Regions from separate parts of the Homo sapiens genome. Here regions 1 and 3 are each linked to region 2. The links come from fine-mapping of genetic effects on gene expression. A gene starts in region 2. Each other region holds a variant in brackets. All regions are shown on one strand. Distances are from middle to middle.

Region 1 (8,184 bases), 99 kb before region 2:
GCTCCACCCTCACTGGGCAGGCTGGTTGGACTTTCTCCAGGGACGCCCTCCCACCTGGCTGTGTCATTCTCTCCTCTAAAGAAATACATCTAGCTGCTGTTAGATTCAGGATAAGGACAAAGACCCATCTTAACTGCTTCCTGCTGAAAGGGGGCACTGCTGTTTTGGGGAAATGACAGAGCTCCCTCAGAGGCCTATTTAAGGGTCCCCAGCAGAAGGGCCCATTGTCAGAGGCTCTGGTTGCATGACAGTTTGGAGTTTGATGGCCTGAAGGCAAGAACAGACAAACCAGGTTATTAGAAAACATGTATCAAAATGAAACAAGGTGCGGGGAAGGACAGCTCAAAAATTCCAAGGCTTTTTACCAGTTTGCACAAGGAGAGGGAAGCCAAAATCCCGACTGGCAAAAAAACCTTACCCTTTGGCCAGCATGTTGGGCTTCTGGGTTCCCTTCCACTGGGCCCTATCCTAACCCAACCAGTTTAAGGTTTGGGAAATTAACTCTTTCCAGTTTGGAGGATGCATCTGAGGGGAGTGTCGCATAGTATGGAGACACAATTACCTATTAGTGAAGAGAAAACCAAGTAGAAGAAAGGAAAAAGAAGGCATTTTTAAAAGGCGTCCCAAGGGTTCAGGATGCATTCGAAAGGGGTACAAACTGAAGATGAATGGCTACCCATTTAGAAAGAGGGAAGCAGGCGTCCCTGGTTCCCTTCTCTTCCCAGCAGATACACAGTGGTAAGTGAGGGAGAGAGAGAGAAGAGTGTCTATTTTCCCTCTTCCATCCTTGCATCCCCAAGTTCTGGTGACCTTGGCACGTGCCACCGTGGGTGTCAAAGCAACTTGCACCCATGAAACGGGGCCCTAGAGAATAGGAATTATCCATTCTCACCTGTGTCTCTTTCCTTCCTACTGTCAGTGGCCTTCGAATTCCCTAGACCTCATTTATGCCATGAATATTAACGTGGTCTTTATCCATGAAACAGGAAGCTTAGTGTTGGCTTATTTGGCAGGAATCAGCCATGCTCACTTGCCCTGTGCCTTTTAACCTCTGTTGTTATTTGCCTCTGGATCCCTCAGATCCAATTTTGTTTCCTAGGGCCTTGACTCGAAGCTTGGAGTTGCATCTGGGAGAAAAATGTATCTCAGGGGTAGGAGGGAGGGGGGTTGCACGGACTCCTTATCATAAGCCAAATGCTAAGGTGAAACTGTGGAACTGAGTCCTCCTCCAAGGGAGAGGAAAGGATGTCTTGTGACATAACTTTCATAACTGGTAGCTATAGTTAAGCTTGCTAGGATTTGGGTGCATGGTACTTAGCTTTGGTTAGCTCCTTTGGTTTTACTTTCCCAAAAGGAAGCCTCTGAGTGACGGGCATTCTATTTATTCCAGTTGCCTGGCAGTATTTGCAGGATAATTGCTCAGAACTAGAACATTGATCTGGATTTCTACACTACCCATCCCTTTTGTTCTTTCCGAACTGCAGCCAGCGATGGCTGCAGTTCACAGGAGCAAGCAGGGTTAGTCTAAAATGTAGGCAAAAACTTAAAAACTAATAATGAGTTTAGAATTTAATGACAAATGTATGATAAGTTTTGAAACATGATTTTTCTCTCTGTAGTCCTCATGTTTGTTAAAAAACAAATCATTGTAGGACTGAGTGGTTTGCAAAATAGACTTAAGTTTTATAATTGGCCTGATTATTTGCATAAAGTGCAGCAAGAATAATTATTTCTATGTAGGCCTTTTGGATTGGCTTTGATGGAATTCTATTCCATGAGGAATCTCAGATAAAATATTTTAAAGCTGAGCCCAACCATGGGTTTGTATCCACAAATACCTGTGAGCTGGGTGATCCTCTCCTCTTAAGGTTGCAAGATAAACTTGGAGCTCCTGACCTGCTAGAAAGTGACATTCTTTACTAACCACAGGTCAGGAACCCTGTACATGGACTGTGTAGATGAGGGTAGGAGGACAGTTCCTCCAGTGGGCTTTTATTGGCTCTGCAGGTCAAAATTGACTCCTTAAAGGGAAGCATATCCTTCCAGTCAAAGCCTTGGTAAAACAACCGTTTTCTCCAGTTGTGTTCTGTTGCAAGAGAAAAATGGATTCTTACTGCACTGATGCAACTATTTATATTGCCATAAGAAAACTCACAGATAGTTTCCAAATTCTAGGGGAGCCAGGCAGAGAGAAACAAACATGCTCCAAATTTTGATCACACGAGTGTACACCTTACTTAATTATTAAAGGCCATAAATAGTTCAAAATAAGTTTCCTTGACTCTGAAAAACAAAACATGGATCAGCAGTATTCCAAGCAAAAGTCAAAAATGTTGCTTCAGCTTTCTGAGTTCAGTTCATTTGTGAACTCTTGTTTTGCTTGATATTCATGAGCATTTCAGCTCTTCATGAGACCTGTACATTTTCCTTTATTCCAATATCACAATCTCCAAAGTTTTCAGAAGCCTGTATTTGGGAGCACCTGTTAAAGTTCTATAGCTTACTATAAGCCATCTTTTGAAAAGGATTAAAACAAAACAACAATTGTCTGAATAGCAAAATGTCCAGGGTAGTCATAGTTAAAAACACGATTGACAAATACGTTTGGTTATCTCTGTAGCTTACAATAACATAACAACCCTAATTATGATTGTTAGCATATACTCAGACATTAAAATTCTAGAAATCCCATACAATTTTGGAACATATGTTTGCATTATTCACCAATATATAACCTAAAGAAGATTGAACATCATTTTGGAAATTTCATATACCTAAATATGTCAAATAATCCTGTTTACCTCTCTTTTCTGGACATTCCAGGGGTTCTCTGGACTATCTGAAAAGCCAGATGTCAGGGAAGGTAATTTTCAAACTGAAGTTTGATTTGGGGAAGGCTGTAAAATATGTTTAAAGCACTTGATGTTGTGAAATAGTATTCCAGATTACCATAAGTTATTTATTTTGCTAAAATGATGATGACTCGGAAATTTTAAAGAAGCAAAAACTTTTTATAACTCTTTTGAATTTAGTCAATATGTTCACATAGAGATCCTCTTCTGCAAGATTAATTTCCACAATTCCTCCACCACTTTTTGAACTTTCAGCTTTTTCCTAATTTAACTCAAAACAATCCTTTAACCCTAGGCAAAAGTTTACATTTCCATGCCTTCTTAAAACCTTTTACTAAAAAACACGTTTTACTGTTCTTGCACACCTTGCACATAAATCTATTTTCAGTAGTCTCAATTACATGTTATAGTGATAACTCCTATCAATTTTTAACTTTAAGATAAAATTCGGTAAGTTGCTTTAATTGTGTGCTAAGTGCATCCAAGGTTTGCCTTCTTAGTTAAGGGCATGTTTAGTTCCATATGTCCCCAGGCCTAAACAATTGTAAAGCAGACAAGACAGACAGTTCTCAAAACCCAAAAAGCAGTTTGTAACCTTAAAATATTCAGCAAACCTTGCATCTGACCTACATAGTTTAGTTTATCTATTTACATTTTAATG[A/G]CAACTACATTTTACCAATCGTCTTTAAGGCTGCTTTTATTTCTCAAAGATTAAAGTCACATGAACTGAAAGATTCCACAGCTCTTAACTTCCCTTTAAAAAATGTTAGATCCAAGCACTTGTCTTTCTTTAGGCCAAATTAATTAGAGCTGTTTTTATAGACATCACACACAGTACATACACAGAAAGGCAGAAGAAAACCCAGTCACTGGGTGAGGTCCCCTAGGAGACAGAGCTAGGAAAACATGCAGATATGAACCACAGGGGACTCATCCTCTAAGGCAGTATTGCTAAACAAAGCTTTGCCAAGGGGTTACTGGCCATGCCCCAAGGATGTAAAGCAAGATGGAGTCTTGCAGGACAAGCGATACAGACATGCAAAGCACACCAGAGTGGCCACAGTCCAAGACTAGCTCCACAAATCCTTTTTCATAATTAAAGCTTTATGAAAAATATGAACAGTGATAGTTGGGGGACCTGGTCTAGTAAACGGGGGAAAAAAAACTTTAAAAGTTAACTGCTGACAGGGTGGAGAAGAGGAAAGAAAAAAAAATTTTTTTAATTCCTGGGGAAGAACCTCTTATTCTTATGCAACTGGTTCCTCCACCAGGGAGAAAAGATGAAGCTAAATTACTGTCCAACAGAGTTGAAACACCTTGGCTGGTGAAGGGGAAGGCTGCCTCAGCCTGGCTGGGAACCAGCCTGCAGGCTGTGCAGAACCCTTGGGCCATGCATCCCAGCCCCAGCAGGGAGTGGGGAGTGGTGGGGAGCTGCTACTTACTGGTCCCTCCTGAAAGAGGAAGGAAAAGGCCATGAAAAATCCTGGGAGTGACAGGGTGGGTGGGGACATGGTTTCCCCCACCTCAGAAGTCTGAGTATGAAAAGGCTTAGAAGCAACAGTGAGAGGTTTTGAGTCCCCATTTTACTCACCACTTCTCGAGCCCCACATTGGGTGCCAAAACTGTTGCAGGGCTTTTCCTTAGTTCACCTAAAGAGGGGGTCCTGTTGCATCCCACGACCATGAACATTTAGGCTCACAGATGGTTTGAAGGGTGTGCGAAGTAGGGTTTTATTGGGTGAAAAGGAAGAAAAGGGGAAAACAGGGACTAGGCCAGAGTCCCTGCTAGGGTGCTTCCCGCCCTTATCCCAGGTTCCTCACAGGCTCCTTCCTGCTGCAAATGTCGTGAACTTCCCGAGGCTCCACCTCAGTGGGCAGCCTGGTTGGGGTTTCTCCAGGGACCCCCTCCCACCTGGCTGTCTCAAAATGAAGGAAGGAGAGAATGGAAGAAGGGAAGGAAATAAGGAAGGCAGGAAAAGGTAGGAAAGAAAAAAGAAAGGAAGACAGTATTGTCTTAAAAATTGTGTTGTGGTTTCTAGACTAAAGTTCTTTGACCATACCACAGCTTTTAAATGGACCATGCAAGTCACTTTTAATAGTGTAACAAGCTTAGAAGCTCACACACTCTAAGTAGAAGATTATGTAGGCCTGGAAAAAATGGTAGGTTACTGCCAGTCATGCAGTGTCTTTATTAGAAAATTCATTGATTAGAAAGGAGAGAAGAAGTAAGCAGATTCTGGAGCATAAAAAGGGGAAAGAATAGCAGCTCTGAAATTAGTATCTTAGTCACTCAGGTAAGCACATCCTAATCAGAACATGTGGTTTAGGAGAGATTCTGAGTAATCCTGTATCCTGAAGAATGCTTTCTGTTCTGAAAGGAAGCGTAACCAAAAAGCTTGTCTCCTTGGGACAAACTGATGAAGAGGAAAAAGCAGGGTCAAAGCCAAGGCTTAACAGAGGAAATGCAGCAATTGGGAATCAGACAGCTCATTAGACACTAACAGCTCAATAAGCACCATTTGAAAACAAATGCAAAAAAATGAGAATCCTATTTTTCAATGCTCAAGTATCAGAAAAGGAAAATATTGACAAAACTCGGTGCTAAAAATGATGTCAATAGATAGGCACTTCTATAAACTAATGGAGGGGTTGTGAATTGGTAAACTTTTTTTGGAGGACAGATTAGCAATTGTACCACAATCTATAATTTTAAATGCATATAATGGCAGTTCTCTTTGTAAGAATTTTCTCAGAGGAAATAAATAGGCAAGTACATAAAGATGTATATCAAGAATTTTTAAAAGTTATTTTATATATAATAAAACTGACTAATTTAATTATCCATCAGTAGAGGGCTTAGTTTAATAAATTAAATATATCCAGATAGTGGTATGCTGTCTGACGTAGTTCTTATAAGCATAGATTTTGGAGTCAGTCTGAGTTTAAATCTAGTCCTACCTCTTACTACTTGTATGATTTTGATCACATTATTTATCTTTGCTTAAATTTCCTAGTCTATAAAACACTTTATAAAATCTATAAAGTAGCTTCATAATCTATAAAATCTACTTCACAGAGTTATTACAAAGATTAGATGAGCTAATACACTGAAAATTCATGTACATAGTAAGTACTCAATATGTGTTAGATATGAATACAGTTGAACAACATGGGGGTTGGGGAGCTGACCCCAGTGCAGTCAAAAATCCTTGTATAAGTGTAGACTCTCCCAAAACTTAACTTCCAGTAGCCTACTGTTGACTAGAAGCCTTAACAATAACATAAACATTCGATTAATGCATACTTTGTAAGCTATTGGTATTATATACTGTATTCTTAGAATAAAGTATGCTAGAGAAAAGAAAATGTTATTAGGAAAATCATAAGAAAGAGAAAATGTATTTACTGTTCATTGAGTGGAAGGGATTGTCATAAAAGTCTTCATACTCTTCATCTTCACATCAAGTAGGCTAAGGAGGAGGAAGAGGAGGAGGGATTGGTCTTGCAGTCTCAGGAGTGGCAGATGTGGAAGGTGGAAGGGGAGGCAGGGGAGGCGGGCACACTTGGCATAACTTTACGAAAACACATCTGACTTTTTTTCCTCTAAAAAATGTTTCTATATAGTACCAATCCTTCTACCACTGTTTGCTTTAGTTTCATATCATAAAAGAGTCCATGTCATTAATGTCAAAAGCAGTCCTGAATAATCAGAACCATTCTGCATGATTATCTAACATCAATTTGTTATCGGGCATTGCATCTTCTATGTCTTCTTCCTCATGATTTGTCATTGATTTGGAAACACTCCTGTCCATCAAGTTGTCTTCTGTTAATTCGTCTGGTGTGGTATCTAGTGGCTCTTAAATTTCTCCAAGATTCTTATCTTGAAATCCTTCACCTCCCACATTTTTTTGTTGCCATATGCATAGTCTCTTTTATAATTTCCTTGACTGGCTCTGTTGTAAATTATGTGAAGTCATGTACAATATCTAGACAGTTTTCTCCAGCAGGAGTTTTTTATTTCTGCTCAATGGTATTCATGGCTTTTTCTAAAATGATGGCATCTTCAATTGAATTATGCCATTGAAGATAATTCCTTTAAATTTTCATGATGTTGTTTCTATCAGGGTTCTCTTTCATAGTGTTGATAATCTTTTTCATAGAGTACTGTGTTTAATGAGCCTTAAAGGTCCTTATGACCTTCTGATCTTGAGACTGCATTAGAGATGTCGTGTTTGGGGGTAGGTAGACCACTTTGATGCCTTAAGTGTTGACCTCATGGTGTTCTGGGTGGGCAGGGGCATGTGTAATAAAAGGCAGTCTCTTACTGGGCAAGGTACTGCGTGACTTCAGAGACAAAGCACCAATGGGACCAGTTCAGAAAAAAATAGTTCTTGTTGTCCAGGCCTTCTTATTGTACAGCCTTAAAACTGGAAGCCTGTGTTTATCTTTTCCATCAAGGCTAAGGAATTGGCAGATTTATAGGTGAGGACAATCCTGATCATAAACCTGGCTACGTTTTCACATGATAGTAGAGTTAGCCTATCCCTTCCTGCCTTAAATCCTGGTGCTCACTTCTCTTCCTTACTATAATAATAAATTTTCTTTGTGGCATTTTTTTCCAGGATAGGGCACTTTCATCTACTAAAATCATCTATTAAAAACCTTTTCGGGCAGTATCTTTTCTCCTCAGTGATTTTCTTAATGATGTGTGGGAACTCATCTGCTCCTTCTTGATCAGCAAAAGCTGCTTCTCCTGTTATCTTGACATTTTTAAATCCAAACCTTTTTCTAAAATTATTAAACCGTCCTTTGCTGACATAGAGTTCTCCAGCTTTAGATTCTTCACCGTTTGTGTAAAGTTTTCATACGATGACTTTGCTTTCTCTCAAATCATATTACAGCCTATAGGCATGTCTTTGTGTTTTCTTTCTCTTTTTTTAGGGACCCAGGCTGGAGTGCAGTGGCGTGATCATGGCTCACTGCAGCCTCAACCTCCTGAATTCAAGCAATGCTTCCACCTCAGTCTCCCAAGTAGCTGGGACTACAGGGCGTGCCTTTCTTAGAGCAGTCCTGGTGCCACTAAAAGCTGCATTTTCAATATGAGATAAAAATGTATTTTACAAAAAGTGCAAGGTCTTCATGTCTGCTGGCATTGCTGCAACAGTGGCTTGTGTGAGAGATCACTTTTTACGGCAATACCCAATTTATTGGAGAGACAAACTGCTCAAGCAAGGATGATTAGCATTCTATGGCATTTCAAAAGGATACTTGCAATGCTTGACCTTACCACAATAGCAACAGGAGGTAGCTACAAAATTATTACAATAGTA
Region 2 (8,162 bases):
GGGTGGGGGTGGCTGGGTGTGGACACTGCAAACAAATACATCAAACTATACCGTTATGTATGCTTTGGAAGCCAGATACAAATGGAGGAAAGAGTAGCATCATACCCACAAAGGGTGGGGAGGAGAGCAGCTTAAAAAGGAAAAATTAAGAGATAAATAAAAGCATTCAGGACACAAAAGATAATATAGAACAGTCAGGTTTTATTACTTTTAAGTAATAAAGAGCCTTTTCCTTGCTTTTCTTTTTTCCCTTTTTTTCTTTTCTTTTTTCTTTTCTTACAACATACATTAAGTCGTGAATCAGATGTTAGGGGATGTGGAGATGGAAGGAAAATTGGTGACATCACAATATTTTTACAACTTTACAACAAATATAAATCTGAGTTTGTTGCATCTACCAGTGTCTAGCAAGGGTGGAAAGCAAAGGCACACTCGGGTTTATGGACCCTCCCCCCACACACAGTGGGGAAAAAAACTGGGGAGAAATACTTAAATGCAGAAGACCAGCTCAATACATGTGGGTATTTTAGGGTTAACACCAGAAGTGATGGGTTGTGGGGGTGTAGGAATGTGGATGTAAGTTTTGACACAGGTCTCCTTAACAGCTGAGGCAGTGATGCCTACAAACACTGGACAAGACAGCCGCTTACGTCAATGATGGGTGCTGCACTGCCAGTACTCTCGGGAGTCAAGCATGGGAAAGAAGGGGGCAGGGGGATACAGACCCATCACCTTCCTAATTTCTGCATTTCTAGAGAAAATTCAAGGAAGAAAACAATATTTCAGGTTCTAGGAAATACTTCAGGGTTTCAGGAGACAGAGTTCACAGGATGTGAACATGGATTCCATTACAAAAGCCAAAAAAAAAAAAAGTAAAAACAACAACAACCACCTACTCCTAAACAACAGCAAAACTAATGGACTTTTGGAACAAAGGGCTCTCACCCACCCTCAGCTAAGTACTCAGGTCTGAAGGCAACCACACTGATTATGGAGGCTCCACTTTTTCACTATCCAACTCAAAACTGTCATTGTCAGTCTTTTTTTGAATTCTTTTTAAAGACAAAACTAAACCCAGAAGATCGAACTGGAAATAAAAGCAGACAAAGAGACCACCAAATATACTGTTTAAAAAAACAACAACAACACTGCTCATGGTTTACAGTATGTGGACAGTTCCTTTGTTCATGATAGAGTAAACAAAAGTCCCTTTTGTGTGCTTGAGCAAATGAAAACCAAGAGGAGAAAAACACACACCACCTCCCATCCCCTAAAAACATAATTAACAAAATAAAAAATAAAATAAAAAATCCTTTGCCCCAGTCAACGTTTTTGCAGCATCCATTGTGGTCGGCCTTGTACTTGGAGTTACTCGTTAATCACAGCAGGGACCAGCCTGCCTGCATCTATTTCCATGTCATTTCTTTGTGTGCACTGCACGTGTGTGCTGTGCACATGGCTTGGAGACTCCTCCCAGGTGTCTGCCCAACCGCGCACCGCCTGCTCTCTAGCCAGTGGACGCAGCAGAAAAGAGGAATGGGACGTTAGTCCCTTTTCTGCTAGCAAATAAGGATATCACCGTATTGAAATAATCTAAGGGAAGCAGGGAGCTCTTGAGGATGAAAGGGGATTTGACACACCCACAACAACACTGGGGTCCATGCTTCGCAGCACAGCCAAAGGGTGGTTCCAGTTGGCACAACTAGAAGGCAGTGTGAATTGGAGGGTGTGGTGCTGCCCAGCGTTCTCAGGCTGTCGCATGACAACTATCACCACTGCATTCTTCCATCTGCTTGACTCCAATCTTTCAGAGGGCTGGAAGTGGGGCAGAGGGTGGGGAAGGGAGGGTTAAATAAATATCTGCACTTATTTCAAAAGGGGGAACAGTTGATCATAAAGAGTTTACAAGTGTACACAACTCAAGGTGTAAGGCACAAATTTACATGTGGAAAACAGGCTATTCACAGATGTAACCCCACGAAGAACCCGTGTGATCAAATCATTAATTTATGCAAGGTAGCAGCCAGCATATTAGTTCACACCATTTGTGGATTTTGTTTGCTGTCTCACATGCAAGGTGAAATGGGATGGCATATTGCAAGCTGGTGCCTTCACAGAAAGTCAGAACCATGGACAAAACCATGTTGGCATCAATGAGATATGATGTGCCATTCTAAAAGCTTTCTCTCCTGATTGCTTTAGAAATTAGGATCTGGAAGGACTTTAACATGAATTAGTTTTTTTGCATGTTTATAGGCCAGAGACCTGACCAGGCAATGAACTGATAGATTTAAATAAATATTCCCCTCCTAACTTTTTCCTTTAGCTACAGACCAGACAGTCCAAACACAAAGCTCAGAATTCCAGCTCCAACTTATTTACTCAGTGAATTTATTGTAAAAATAAAGAAACTCAATTATTCCAGTTAATGGATTTCACGTTAAATAGTTTAACTTTCAATGGGCTTTCTGAAGAGCTGTTCATAGGATGATATTTGGAAGAGTCCTTTCCTTAAGGAAAAAAAGGGTGAACAATAAATAAAGAGTTACTTGCGTTAACGGTCACGTTATTTCATTAAAAGAGAGGAGGAGCAGAAATCTATGACATAGTTGCCCAACATGGCATTTATCTGCTGCAACAGAAAGCTGTAACACTGGCGGGCATTTCACAGTATTTGCGCATAGTAAACTTCTGCCATTGTTAAAGTCTGAGTTAGAATTATCAATGAATTCTTTTTTTTTTGTCTTTTTAAATTTTCTTGATTTTAAAAAATGTATTTGTGTTTTGCAGGTTGGAACGCAAACCCAGTCTGGCCACGTCCCGTGAAGTTGTGGACAAAATGTTTCAGTTTCTGTTCACCTCTGTGCGTGTGTGTGTATGTGTTGTGTGCATGTGTGTGTGTGTGTGTGTGTGGGGGTGGGGGATGGGGTAGGTATGTGCTTTTGGCTCATGTTTGTGATGATAACTGAAGTCTTTTGTGGGTCCGACCTGTTGTAGGGTGTGGGGGAAAGTGAAGGAAGAGAATGAAGGTGAGTCCCCGCCGTTGCAAACCTTCACCAAACCACGCGGCCCAGTTTTCGTGAGTACCCCTGTGTCCCAGAGAGGAGGACCCAGCGTCCTCGGCTCTGCCGCAGGCCTTCTTGGTCTGGTGGGTACTCGAGGCAGTTGAGAACCTTGCTGAGCTGAGCGGGCACCTCGCCTTGCCTGCTGGTTCGACACCTGACCCCCTCCCCCTGGGATTATGTACACGCATCATTGGGCTTCATGGATGTGGAAAGGGGAGCAAAGGATGGTTTGGGGGGTACGTCCGGCTTTAGCGAGGGCGTACGCTTCAGCCCCGACCTTGTCAGTGAGTTGTAGGCGTTGAGGCTGGGCTGCCTCGAGACAGTCACGGCCTGGCCAGATGGCTGGGAGCTGTGCACCTGGATGGAGTCCACCCTCTGCGGGGCGGGCGGCGGGTTGTCTCCCCTGCCAAAGCTCTGGTTTCTGGAGAGGTGAGAGGAATTGGAGGAGTTAGTGTTGTTTCTTTTGAGAGTGGTGGCCTGGTGGCTTCTCGTGAGCGAGTTCGTGGGGTAGCTCCTCTTATAGTCAACCCCGTAGGAAGAGGAGTGGTGCATTTCCAGCCGCTTGCTTAGACCGGTCTGAGACAGGGAGGCTCCCGGGGGACCCAGGGAGGCCTCCCGCTGTGGAACTTTGGGGGGCAGGCTGTCCAGGTTCTCCACAAGGTTCACCCCATGGTTGGGACTCTTGCTGCTGAGATGTTCCTTGATGGTCTTATACTCCAGTGTGGCGGCCTGGTCCTCCAGCGCCATCTGGGCCACCTCGCTCATTTTGGGCTGGTCCACGTACTCATGCTGGTAGCCCTGCTGCGTGATGGGCAGGACCACCACGCTGGGGATGTGGCTGGGGGAGGCCCGCAGGGGCAGGTCCGTGGGAATCACAGGGGAGCCCATGGGGGGCATGTCCTTTGTGCAGGCATTGATGAGGTTCTGGTTCCTCTCCCACTCGCGGCTGCCGCGGCTGGGCTTCCGCTTCTGCTGCAGCGTTGGGGTTGACTCTGGGGTGGGGAGGGCCGTCAGGTCCAGGTGGTGCTGGTCTGCTTTAATGAGCATCTTGGCCGTGTTGCCGGGAGTGGCGAGCTTGCCGTTGTGCATGAGTGGCGTGAGGATGGCCTCCGGCTTTGGGTCTTTGGATTGAGTGTCCCCAAAGAGGCCGCTGAGCTTGGTGACGCTGCTCATGGAGCCCCGGCGCGAGTGGGTGAGCTCCTTCTCCTTGCGCTGCACCACAGCCACGTCTTTGCGCCGATGATCACAGACGCAGTAGACGGTGATGCCCGAGAAGACGGCCCCCATGACGAAAGCCAGGATGACTGCAATGGCCAAGAGGGTGACGGGAACCAGCTGGTCGTGGCCTTTGAGGTAACTTTCCCGAATCACTCCTGCAATAGACATCGCATATGGCGTTAAGAAATGAAAGCACACCCCGAGGCTTGTTTTTGCTTGGCATTCACCTTGTTAATTAATAACAGTAGTAAGTGACAACAGCACCTCTGCACAACTTGTCTTCCAAGCTCAGCTTGCCAAACATTAACCAATTAATCCTCCCCAAGCCCCTCGTGTGCAGTATGTAAATGGACTCCATTTGTAGCCTTCTTTGTTGTCTAAAAAAGTGCTGTTCAGGCCGGGCACGGTGACTCACGCCTGTAATCCCAGCACTTTGGGAGGCCGAGGCGGGTGGATCACGAGGTCAGGAGTTGAAGACCAGCCTGGCCAAGATGGTGAAACCCCCGTCTCTACTAAAAAAAAAAAAAAAAAAAAAAAAAATTAGCCAGGCGCGGTGGCGGGGGCTTGTGATCCTAGGTACTCCGGAGGCTGAGGTAGAGAATTGTTTGAACCTGGGAGGTGGAGGTTGCAGTGAAGGGAGATCAGGCCACTGTACTCCAGCCTGGGTGACAGAGCGAGACTCCGTTTCAAAAAAAGAAAGAAAGAAAAGTGCTGTTCACTCTTTCCAGTACCTGCACTTTCTACTCTGCTTCACTCCAGGGAATATGGGAGGTTTTGGCTTTCAAAAGTTATCTTTCTTTCCTTCTTTATGGCTTTTTAACCTTCCCTTCCTAGAACTGGGATAACCAAGTTATCCTGAGTCTGGAGGAAGAGGCAACAATTTTATGCATGTTAGACAAACAAATCACACACTCTGGGCTTCCAGTTGGGATCTTTTCCGACGGCCCCCTTGTGGCCACCGGAGCCTCCGTCTGGGGAAAAGTGTTTGCCTTTTAAGCAACTAGAGGAAAGAGAGTGTGTGTCATTTTTATTTACACTGAGAGAATATAGCTAAAGTTCACAGACTACAAATGTTTGTGCTGATTTTGCATCACCTCTCAAAAAAAAAAAAAAAAAAAAACAGTGCAAACTCAATTTCAGGTAACTATCCTGAATATTTGAATGAAGCTTTCTCACTGGAACTGAAAGAAGATTCAGAAATAAGACCATTTGGGGCCCTGTAGTGGGTTTGAGAAGTGTTAGGTACCATTATTGCACCTAGAGTTTGCTGTCACAGTGGGATTTTTCAGCAGAGCTAATCTCTTCAATTTAATAAAAATTATGTGACTACACCCATCCGTAATCTTACACTACATTAACCAGGATTCAGTGTTTCTGAAGGAAGGTGCTTTCGCTATTCCTGCTTAATCAGCCACCCAGCTGAGTGACTCTAATCAAATGCAAACACAGAAGCTTTTATTTTTTAATACCAAGTGAGAATACACATCACAGTTGTCAGATCTTAAGTGCTTGATGCAGTCGCTAAAAAATAAAATCTCTAATACCTCAATTCCTGCCTCTGGAGAGTGAAAGAACATGAATACATTAGAGGCACTGCATGGGCTGAGGAAATGTAAACATTGTTCCTATTATGGAAATGATAGCAAGACAGAAAAGGTACCTTCTCTGGTCTCGGGAGACGCATTTTTCATCTACTAAATCAACTCTTTCTGGAATATGTTTCATGTATTTTACTGGCAGGTATCAGTGGCACAGAATTAGAATGAAAGGAAATAAAGATCTCTACCCCTTCCCAAGCCCACAACACGCAACCTTAAACTTCTACTGAAATGTTGTCTTTGTCACAGCCGAGACCTTGAAGCTTTCTCATGGGGGTTTTTCTGCTAAAATATTTTGATTTCTGAAGTGATGGTTTTAAAACCCAGAAACCTTAGCCTGAAAAGTACATTCTCTTTTTCTTTCCTTCCTAAGGGTCCTCCTCCCTTCAATTGTGACATCACAGTTGGTTGCTGTGGAAATGATTGTCCTGTGACAAAGGATTGTGACTTAAGTAGAAGCAGCAAATATCTCTTAAGAAATAAAGATTCTGTGATCCAACAAATACCCTTGGTAATAAAAGGCAGTCAAGGCAATTCACCATAAGGAAAGAGTGTACAAGACGGTAAGATATCAAATAATTTTCAAATGTGATACTTTTCAAATATTTCCAGATTTATCTCCATCAGCTTTTAAGGGGTAGAAACTGAGAAGCAAAAAACAGCCGGAAATTTGGCTGTAACTCACACCTTTTATGTGTGAAGCTCCCCAAACAGTGGGGTGTCCTGCATTCAAATATATTTTAGTACCTATTCACCAAGGAAATGTGCTAATGAAAATTTTCTTTCTTAAATTTGCATTTCCTTATTATGCTAAAATAGCTACTGATTTTTCTTCAATTTTGATTATGTATGGGGTTCTACCGAACACCGTTTTTAACCCCCTACATATAATTGCACAAAAATGTACACCTGTGGATAAAATGGTTTTAATTTCTCTCATTGACTTGGTGATTTCAGTGGGAGTTGAACACAGGCTAGACGGCCCCAGTAATGGGGTGGGGGTGTATTAGGTGTTTTTTTCATGGCAATGAGTATTTCATGAAACCCTTCCAGGCTACCAAATTTAGGGGGACTGGATATTCCCAATAAATGTGTATTATAATAGGAAGCTATTTACAATTGACTTTGGCATTCTACAATTTAAACTGCCCTCTCAGTTTAAAAGGAACGTGGAAAGAGTAAAGCTAGAGCAATTCATTGGTTTCACTGGGAAAACTGCAAATTTTTCACATGTATCCATTGCTTCTTAGCCTTACTTTTAGCTCCCAAATATCATTCTTCTTTCATGTCTGAAGGTCCTTGGCTATTTTAGACTCATGAAAGCTACTTATTCTTTCACTGGGAAGAACTCTTTTTTAGTGGATGATATTTGAGTTCAGGTTTTTGGTTGTTAACAAGTTAAGTAGGATCTGACCTTTCAGGAAAATGGTATCTCAGACAGATTTTTTCCCCCGTCTCATTTTGTTATATAAAGAGTGGCCTTAAAAACATTTTTGCATGTCTTCATCTATCCATGGGGAGGCAGAGGGCTTTCCTCATCTGCTTGTGTAAATTCAGAAACGTCCAAAGATGGAAACAGATCAGAGAGTAAGTTGAAAGTGCAGTTGAAGAAGATAAGGTAAACGTTATTTTTGGAAATGCCTTTCAAACTTAAAGCTTTCTGCTTATATCATGAAAAAGGCCAAAGAAGCATTCACAGAAATGATCAAGTCAACTTTGTGGAATAGCCATTGTGAAGGCTTGGAAACAGCAGACTTGTCAGTAGTGGTGATAAAAGCAGCTAGAGAAGATCTCAGTGGGCTTGGAATTGCAGGCTCCCACTTACTGGCTGGGTGACCTTTTGGCAAGTGACTTAACATCTCTGGGCCTCAGTTTTTTTATCTGTAGCATGAGGTGAACACACCTAATCTTACTGCCTTACTGGATTGTTACAAGAATCAAAGGAAATAAAAAATAGGAAAGAGCTTAAATGCTGTAGTTTGCTGGACAAATCTAAAGCTCAAAAGAAGCCACAAAGGAGAAGTGGTGGGTTAGTGGCTCACAGAGGGCTTCCAAGTGATAGTCGCAGCTGCTCCATTGGATTCCATTTGCTATTGGTCTCCCATGGGAGAGGAGTAGACCTGTGCTTCCAGGTCCAAACTTCGTGCCTTCTAAATGTAGTCAAAAAGGTGATATGAGATTTCGAAGCAATATAAGGGAATGCATACTGTTTCAGGATGCCTATAGTTACTGAATTTTGAAATAATTAAAACAACAGAAGTGGAAAATGTTGGCAATTATA
Region 3 (8,184 bases), 150 kb before region 2:
TTTCTTAAGACATTACTGTTGTTATGATGCACAAGTCAAAGAACATGTGGCATTTCCAAAGAGTATTAAATGCATGTTACTTTTTTATAAAAATAAGATAAATGAGATTAATGGGGCTTGGAACTGCAATCTTGGTAAATAAAGTTACTGTATGTCTTTCACGAGTGTGTGACATGAGGATTGAATAGACAGAATTGCTTGTTAGAAAGAGGAACTAATTTTTGTATCTATTACAAATTATATTTGTAATTCTTCCCTAATTATAAATTATCATGATTATTTTTATTTGGGAAATACCAAAAAATCATAAATAACTAATCTAAACTTACAGAATCCTATCATCCAAAAATGGCCATTAATGACAGTTTGATAGATTTATTGCAGTTTTTTTGTATCCATTTATCTTTCTTGTTCATTTTTTCTTCTTTCCTAACAAATTGAAGTAATGCCATAAATTCTGTTTCATACTTTGCTTTATGTACCCTTACAGCATGAACATTTTTCATATCTTTATTGCCCAAACATAATTTTAATGTATATTAAATAGTTCATCATTTGAATGATCTATACTTTATATACTTTATATTTCTCAAAATAATTAAATTGTCCAAATTTTGGCACATTTAGATTATTCAAATTTTTGAACGTAGGGAACTCACTGATAAATATAATTATACATAAACCCTAGACCACATCTCTCGTGATATTATTAGTATAGATTCCTAGAAGTAGAGTTGCTATGTCAAAAGTATGAAGATTTATTTTCTATTTTCATCTTTAATCGGATTTTCATTATAAAAAAACAAGGCCAGGTGTGGTGGCTTATGCCTGTAATCCCAACACTTTGGGAGGCTGAGGCAGGAGGATCACCTGAACCCAGGAGTTTGAGAACAGCCCACGCGACATGGCAAAGCCTTATTTCTATAAAAAAATACAAAAATTATCCAGGCTTGGTGGTGCATGCCTATAGTCTCAGCTACTCAGGAGGCTGAGGTGGGAGGATCACCTGAGCCCAGGAGGTTGAGGCTGCGAGTCATTCTATCATCCCACTGCACTTCAGCCTAGGTGACAGAATGAGACCTTTTCTCATACATATATATATAGCTGCCCATTAAAACAAAGTTGCACCATTTTGCCATCTCACTTCCTGGAAGTACCTACCTAATACTGCAGACATTTGGTGGGTGCAGTAGCTCATGTCTGTAATCCTAGCACTTTGGGAGGCTGAGGTGGGCAGATTGCTGGAGCCCGGGAGATTGAGACCACCATGGTCAACATAGTGAGTCCTGTCTCTACAAAAAAAAAAAAAAAAAAAAAAAAAAATAATAATAATAATAAATTAGCCAGGTGTGGTGGCACACACCTGTGGTCCCAGCTACTTGGGAGGCTGAGGTGGGAGAACTGCTTGAGCCCAGGCAGTTGAGGCTGTAGTGAGCTGTGATCATGCCACTGCCCTTTAGCATGGGCAACAGAGCAAAACCCCATCTCAACACACAAAAAACCAGACATCTTATAATACAAATATACACACCTCTTGTGTATTTTCAAAAATACATTTATATTTATTTCAAGGCCTTTGATATATATTGCTAAATTGTTTCTCCAAAGGATTATATTAATTTGTACTCCCACAAACAATGAATGAGAACTCACTTGCCTCAAGCCACCTTCAGCAGCCCCTTCTTCCTTCTATACATTTCACCCTCAACATTTTTTATAACCTGAGGTCAGTGTTTGTTTAGGAAGAGTGATGGGACATATTGAGATATGTCACTTTGATAACTATAGAAGGATTGAAAAGGAAATCTCTTTAAAAATCAAATATGAGAGCCAATAACTCAGTATTCAAGTGTAAGGGCTTCGAAGTCAGGCATTTATTTATTCAACAAGTAATCACTGCTGAGTATGGTGAATATGGTGGCAGGAACTGTGTATGCTAGGTACCATGTTTACAGTGATAGGCAAAACTAGTTCTTGGCCTCTTGAAATGTAATGTGTTAGTGAAAAGTAAACAAATATGGAATAAATGAACAAATATGGGACAAAATATAATTGGATTCTATTCAGAGAAAATTAATGATGGAACCAAACTTGGACTGGGGCATCAAGGAAGGATTCTCTGAGGAGTGAGATTTGAGCTGAGTCCAATATGATGAGTTAAGATGGCACAATAGTAGAATAGAGTGACAGGCATTCTAGAGAGAATGGCCCATGCAAAATCTCAGAGGATGGGAAAGGCTTAGCGCATTTCAGGAACCAAAAGGTCAGTGTGGCTAGAGTGTAGTGAACAGATGGCATAGTGGAGTGCACTACAATTAGGTAGACAGGGAGCCATTCTCTTACAAGTTTTGTCGTTTTTACCACCAAAATGTATTGCAAGTGTATCTCCAGGGCACTACCCTGTCCAAGCTGCCATCAACTTTGCCCTGGACCACCTTTCTTCCATTCTAGCCCTCCTCCAGTCCAGTCGTTGTACAGAGCTAATTTTTAAAAAATAACCTATTAATTATACCATCTCCCTGCCTAAAACCCTTCAAAGGATCCTATTACACATTAAGTAAAATTTAACGATCTGGTTTCTCAGGACAGTGCAAAGGTTATATCCTTGTTCTTCTACTTTGTGTGTGTGTGTTGAGCAAGTTAATTTGTGAAAGTTCACTTTACTTATCTTTGTAATAGGAATAATAATCTAACTAACATGAGTGTTTTGAAGATTAAGTGAAATTCATGTTAAACATTTAGCATAATCCTTGAATCTCAATCATATAATAAGCATTAGCTGACATTTTTATAATCATTAAGAAAATAAGCAGACTCTCTGTTGAAATTTTTCCAGGTGAAGTTTGAATTAGAGTCAAAATTGTAGAAAGCTTGCTATGAAGCCCCTTCACTTTAAACTTATTTGGCATTCTAATAACAACTCCATTTTATAATCACAGATTCTAACACAATGCCAATTCTGCTTTTATTTTTTATTTAAAAAATGAGGTAATACATGTATTATGGGACCAGAATGAAAAAAATACTTTCTTCTGAGTACCTTTCCACGTGGCTCTTCTGGCTCTGAGAAATCTTTTTCTCTACTCAGTGAACTTTGATTTCTTCTTACCGTAAATAATGTCTTCTACACTTTATTCATTATACCAAGGATCAGCAAATGATGGACATGACCCACCACTTGTCTTTGTAAATAAAGTTTTATTGGAACACAGTTGTCTTGCTACCAAACTCACTCTTGAGACTTTCTCCCTTCCTTGCTTTGAAGAAATAATACCATGTTATAAGAGAGGCTGCGGATAGGGCTACATGACAAGGAACTGAGGGTGACCTCTAGGGGCTGAGGGAGAACAGCCAGCAAGAAATTGAGGCCCTTAGCCTTATAGCCTCTATGAAATAAATTCTGCGAACAACCTTGAATTAGCCTGGAAATGGGTTTTCTTGTCGTTTTTTTGTTTGGCTTTGTTTTGTTTTTTTCCCTGTTAAGCTTCTGGATGAGAGCACAGTCCAACTGACTCTTATTGCAGCCTTGTGAGATTTTAAACAAAGGACCCAACTAAACTATGCTTGAACTCTACCCATGGTAATTGTGAGATGATAACTCTGTTGTTTTAAACCTCTAACTTTGTAGTAATTTGTTACGCTGCAATAGATAACTAAAACAACAGCCATGCTCAATTGTTTACATATGGTCTGTAGCTGCTTTTGAACAACAGCAGGGTTGAGTAGTTGCAGCAGAGACCATATGGCCCACAAAGCCTAAAACCTGGCCCTTTATAGAAAGAAAGGATGCAGAACCCTGCTTTATACTATGCTCTCTAAACCGGAGCATCCCTAGAGAAATAAAGTAGTTGGTAGGGAACACAAAAAGTCGTAAGATGGACGTTGTATATATTTCAATAGCATCACTTCTACTTTTTGCCAGAAGTAGAAGAAATTACATTTTCTATCCTCTTTTGCAGCTACTGCAGCCGTGGAACTAAGTGTTGCTAATGAATTGTGAATGGAAGTGATCATTCATCTCCAGTTGTCTTCC[T/C]CTTTCTGTGATTGAAACCCAGATTTGGAGCTGAGTCAGCTTTGAGCAGACAAGAATGCTAATGCTTAAGAGGTAGGGAGCAACAAGATGGAAGGAACCTGGGTCCCTGAATATACTTATAGAACACAGCTGTCTCCATGCCCTTGACAGAAATAAAATATCTTGTTTGAGTTATTAAATTTGGGGTCAGTTTAGGCTATACACAGCACGTTTGCCTGTAGCCTAACTAATATGGTGGCAACATAATTTTATTATAATTGGCCAGTAATGTACAACATATTTTAAAATGGAGATTTACATTTTATGGCAAAATGCATATAAATGTTAAAGAGGAAATGGGAAACCTTAAAAAACAGAACAAAACCTTTGTGCTTGCAGCCTGCGAATTCAGGCTAAATTCTCAGTGTTACTGGGAACCTATATTCACCTCCCTCCTTCAGTGTGGTTATTTTGAGACAAATGTTTTGAGAAACCATAAGGGTATATTGTAAATTTCCCCCAAAGTCTTTCCATAATTCTTTTTCTACTGTTGAATAAGAGGACTGGGATGGTTCTGATTTATTCAGATGCATTAGTCAGAAGCTACTCAGGAATTATAATTTAAATTTCTGATCAATTTTGCTTCCCTAAAACTTTGATTTTTTTTTTGCCATCATTATGCAAATAGTCCTACTCAATAGACCAGCTTCATTTAATGCTAAAATTAGGAACACATTAATTTGAGGTATTTTATAGTAAAGCTTAATGGCATTTTTAATTTTGGAGAATTTTAAGGATTTTTAACCATTGCTCCCATCTCGCCATATGCACACTCCTGAAGTATTTTTGAAGCTCTTTTGCTTTTCTCTGAACTATAAGGTTGTACTAGCTGTTATGGAGGCCTACAATCCAAATCTAAATGATGGCAGTTTTCATAGCCTACTTTGTTTTATTTGAAATGGAAAGTTACTGATTTTTATTTCAAAAGAAGTAGTCTGCAAAGACAGGAAAGGTGAAGCCAGTCCAGTCAACAAATCTGTAAGGAAGATGGTGCTAGAGGCTTAGAGAGACTGTTTCAATCTCCAAGGCAGGAAAAATAATGAATATATAATAATCTTCTTTTAGTGAAACCAGAGTTCAGTCATTTTTAGCATCTTTTAATGAGAACCTGATTTTTTAATGATTTTTAAAGATTTTTCCTTCAAAAAATCTAGGTAAAGGAAAGCAGTTAATAGTAAATTTAATAGTTGCATTTATTTTTTTCTGACTTATGTTTGTATTTTTTTAATTGGCAAATAAAAATTAAAAACACTGTACATTCTACCCAAAACTTTAAAGGAAAGTCAATAATAAAGTTTTTTAAATCTATGATAAATATAGACTTGCTGTAAGGCAAGGAGTGCAGTGATTTCTCAAGGCCTTTCCTCATCTCTCCTTCTGAGATTTCTAAGTTTCCTTTGTGCACTATTTTTAGTCCACATTTCAAATTATTCTGCAGTTTCAACCAGACTACATAAGGGGACAAAGGAAAAAGCTGCTGTCCCCTGGATAAGGCTGCTTTAACACATCAACCTTGGAAGCTCCAGCATTCCTCTCCATCCCAAGAATGTGTTTATGCTTTGACAGAGGAGCAGAGTAATTTCCAGCTGATCAGAGAAAAGGTGACTTGTGTATTCCAGACCATGTGTTCTACTTTGCAGTCCAGCTTCTTACTCTCTTTCATGCTGCTGCAAGTAGTTCTACGAACATTGGGGTGCTTTAGAAATACTGAATGAATGAATTAATAGAGTATGTAGTTTTTTTCTGCCTTGGGCTCTCTCCATTTATTTGCACAGTACTATCTAAATTCTTAAAATAATTGTAAACTTAAAGTTGTACAAAAGTAGTTTTCAAACTGGTTTAGCCAGCTATGCTGGTATTTGGTAATTCCATTAGGGAATAGCCACATCCCTTCTAGGGAGTATCTCCTGAGGTCACTGATCCTTTTATTCATCATCCAGGAGATAAACATGAGAATAAAAGCCTTATAACCAGCCAGAGACCCAGATTTCTGCCCTCCAGAAGGCTAGAGCAAGTTCTCGCATTGCTGTGAAGAGATTTATGATAGTCATGAAGTTGACCTACACATGCTTCTGGGTACTGATGCTGCAAGACTGAAAACAGTTACATTCCTAGCAATTTCAGAGTTGTTTTATGTGATAGGGTCAAAATGAAGTGCTCCAGAGAGACATCAACAACATTCTTATACTGAAATATATGTTCAGTGTGTATAGATTTTCTGAGCTCATTACCCAGAAGATTTTAATTTCCTGCTGAAAAGAGTATCTTGATTAAAGACACACATAGACACACACACACACACACACACTCCTGTACACACTGCCTACAAACAGGCTTTCCTCACTGATGTGGGACAATTCTGACAAAGTTTTTTTAAGTCTCCCTTTACATGGCACAGATTGTTCCAACTTATCACAAATATACCAGCTGGACAAAAATCAGATAAAGTTGACATAGATAGTACAGAAAGCAGGCAAGATAAACAGAGCCACACAGAAAGCTGTTCAGTAACAGTTTAGTTTAATTTTATGCAACTAAGACTGTGCCTTTAGATGTAGAGCCCAATGTGAGGGATCAGTTTCTTATGATAGAGTAATATTTATAACATCTAACTTTTCTACCTTATGGCAGAATGCCCTGTGAATCCTTGAAACTCAAGGCCTTCTTTGTCAGAGTTTTGGTTCTTACTGCAAAGTATGTTCTTTCCTTATGTCATCCAAACAAAGTAACTAGAGTAGTAAAAAGAAAGTCAGTGAGTTTGGATGCATTGGCTTTCTGGACTTGCAAATTATCCAGTGCAGGCATTTCTCACACAGCAGGCTTGGAGGACTCTGGGGGTGGCCACCTTTGCTAGATATGCTATTAACCTCCTTCATATGGTTGGGTCAGTGATCTTGTAAAGTTCTGCTTGGCAGGCTCATAGGTGTTGATAGGTGCCCTAAACTGATGGACCAGTAGAGGGTGGCCACCATCTGTGAGGTTATTTCTTCAGGCCCTCAATAAGCACTTACCCAAATGCACTGATTTTACAGTGCTGTGGTTCTGTACTGGATTCCATGAAGCACCCTTCCCGTCTCTGATTTTCCAGGATCATTTTCCTTAAGTTAATGCCATTCCTGTAAATGCATTTCTACTCTTTGATCCCTTTTCTTTAGTTTACACTTTCAGTTAAATCTGTAAGCAAGATAATCTTTGAAAATTATTTTAATTAATGTTTATATTTAGCTCTATAGTCTGTGTAAGGAGATCCAGGGTTACAAGAGTCTGCTTGAAAAAATAGAGCCACATCAGATCAAATTTTCTTTCCATAGGATTGTATTTTTTGAAATGTTAAAAATTCTCCTATAATTAAATATTTAAACCTTATTTCATCATTTTTCTAAGCGTTTTTACTTTAGGGTTTACTAAAGGAAGCCAAATCAATTTCATAAACTTCTCTGTATAGGATTTCAAATAGAACATTTTTATGGAAATAGGGTGAATATGTTATAGAGGAAGAAATGCTTCTGCCTCTCTGCCTACTTCCCTATTGGCCCTCTCTCTCGTTCTCCCACATCCTTTAGGGAAGAATGGCTTGCCATTCATGTTTGGTCAGTTAAAGTATTGGTTGGCCATGTTTATCGATGGCCAGATCAACCATAAAAAGACCATGCCCATGGATGGTGCTCCTTTTGCATTTCTTGTTTCCACTCTATGGGATGGAATAGAGAGAGTCCAGATTTTGAGGAGAAGCTGAGATGTGTGGGGAAGAGGGGCAGGTAGGGAGGGAGTGTCTTTCTTAGGCCTTAAGAATGAACCATATGCTCTTACCCAACCTTACCAAGCTCTGAAAGATAATTGTCATTTTGGTTCCCAGTTGCTATCAGTCTTCCTATGTGTAGCTCTTCTGGAAATGTCAGCATCAGGAGTGAATGGCAGGATAAGATTTGGGCATTTGTGAAGTTCTCTAGTCAGGTTCCATTAATGCAATCACAATTCCAGCCTCTGTCCTTTATCAGTCGTCTTAGCAGATCTGTCTTATTTTTCAGTGATAAACGTAGAGAGCTATGGGCAAAAACATCAAAGGTATCATTCATATCTTTCAATTCTCAAGTAGGCCTCGAGTAAGAGAA

Alleles and levels. Positions count from the first base shown, and alleles are read on the strand shown. Sizes are in standard deviations (SD) of each study's normalised expression. Not every link is listed here.
For the expression in monocytes of the gene that starts at base 4,125 in region 2, allele A in region 1 goes with a higher level than allele G (moderate effect, 0.59 SD a copy in BLUEPRINT).

The links. PIP is the estimated chance that this variant, and not a neighbour inherited with it, causes the effect.
Region 1: its variant is fine-mapped to the expression of SEMA6A-AS1 in monocytes (BLUEPRINT, PIP 0.91).
Region 3: its variant is fine-mapped to the expression of SEMA6A-AS1 in whole blood (TOPMed, PIP above 0.99). The same link has a PIP of 0.9 or more in blood mononuclear cells.

What each region holds. Positions count from the first base shown.
Region 1 is chr5:116,344,097-116,352,280 of GRCh38, forward strand. No RefSeq gene overlaps it. Among named protein-coding and RNA genes, the nearest start is that of MIR12130, 92 kb to the left of the region's middle. The variant A/G (reference allele first, on the strand shown) is at 3,514.
Region 2 is chr5:116,443,374-116,451,535 of GRCh38, forward strand. It overlaps SEMA6A-AS1 (SEMA6A antisense RNA 1), which reads left to right and starts at 4,125. Exons shown (of 3, transcript NR_109879.1): 1 at 4,125-4,418; 2 at 6,255-6,444. It overlaps SEMA6A (semaphorin 6A), which reads right to left. Exons shown (of 19, transcript NM_020796.5): 19 at 182-4,438. The coding sequence ends at 3,240.
Region 3 is chr5:116,294,288-116,302,471 of GRCh38, forward strand. No RefSeq gene overlaps it. Among named protein-coding and RNA genes, the nearest start is that of MIR12130, 43 kb to the left of the region's middle. The variant T/C (reference allele first, on the strand shown) is at 4,034.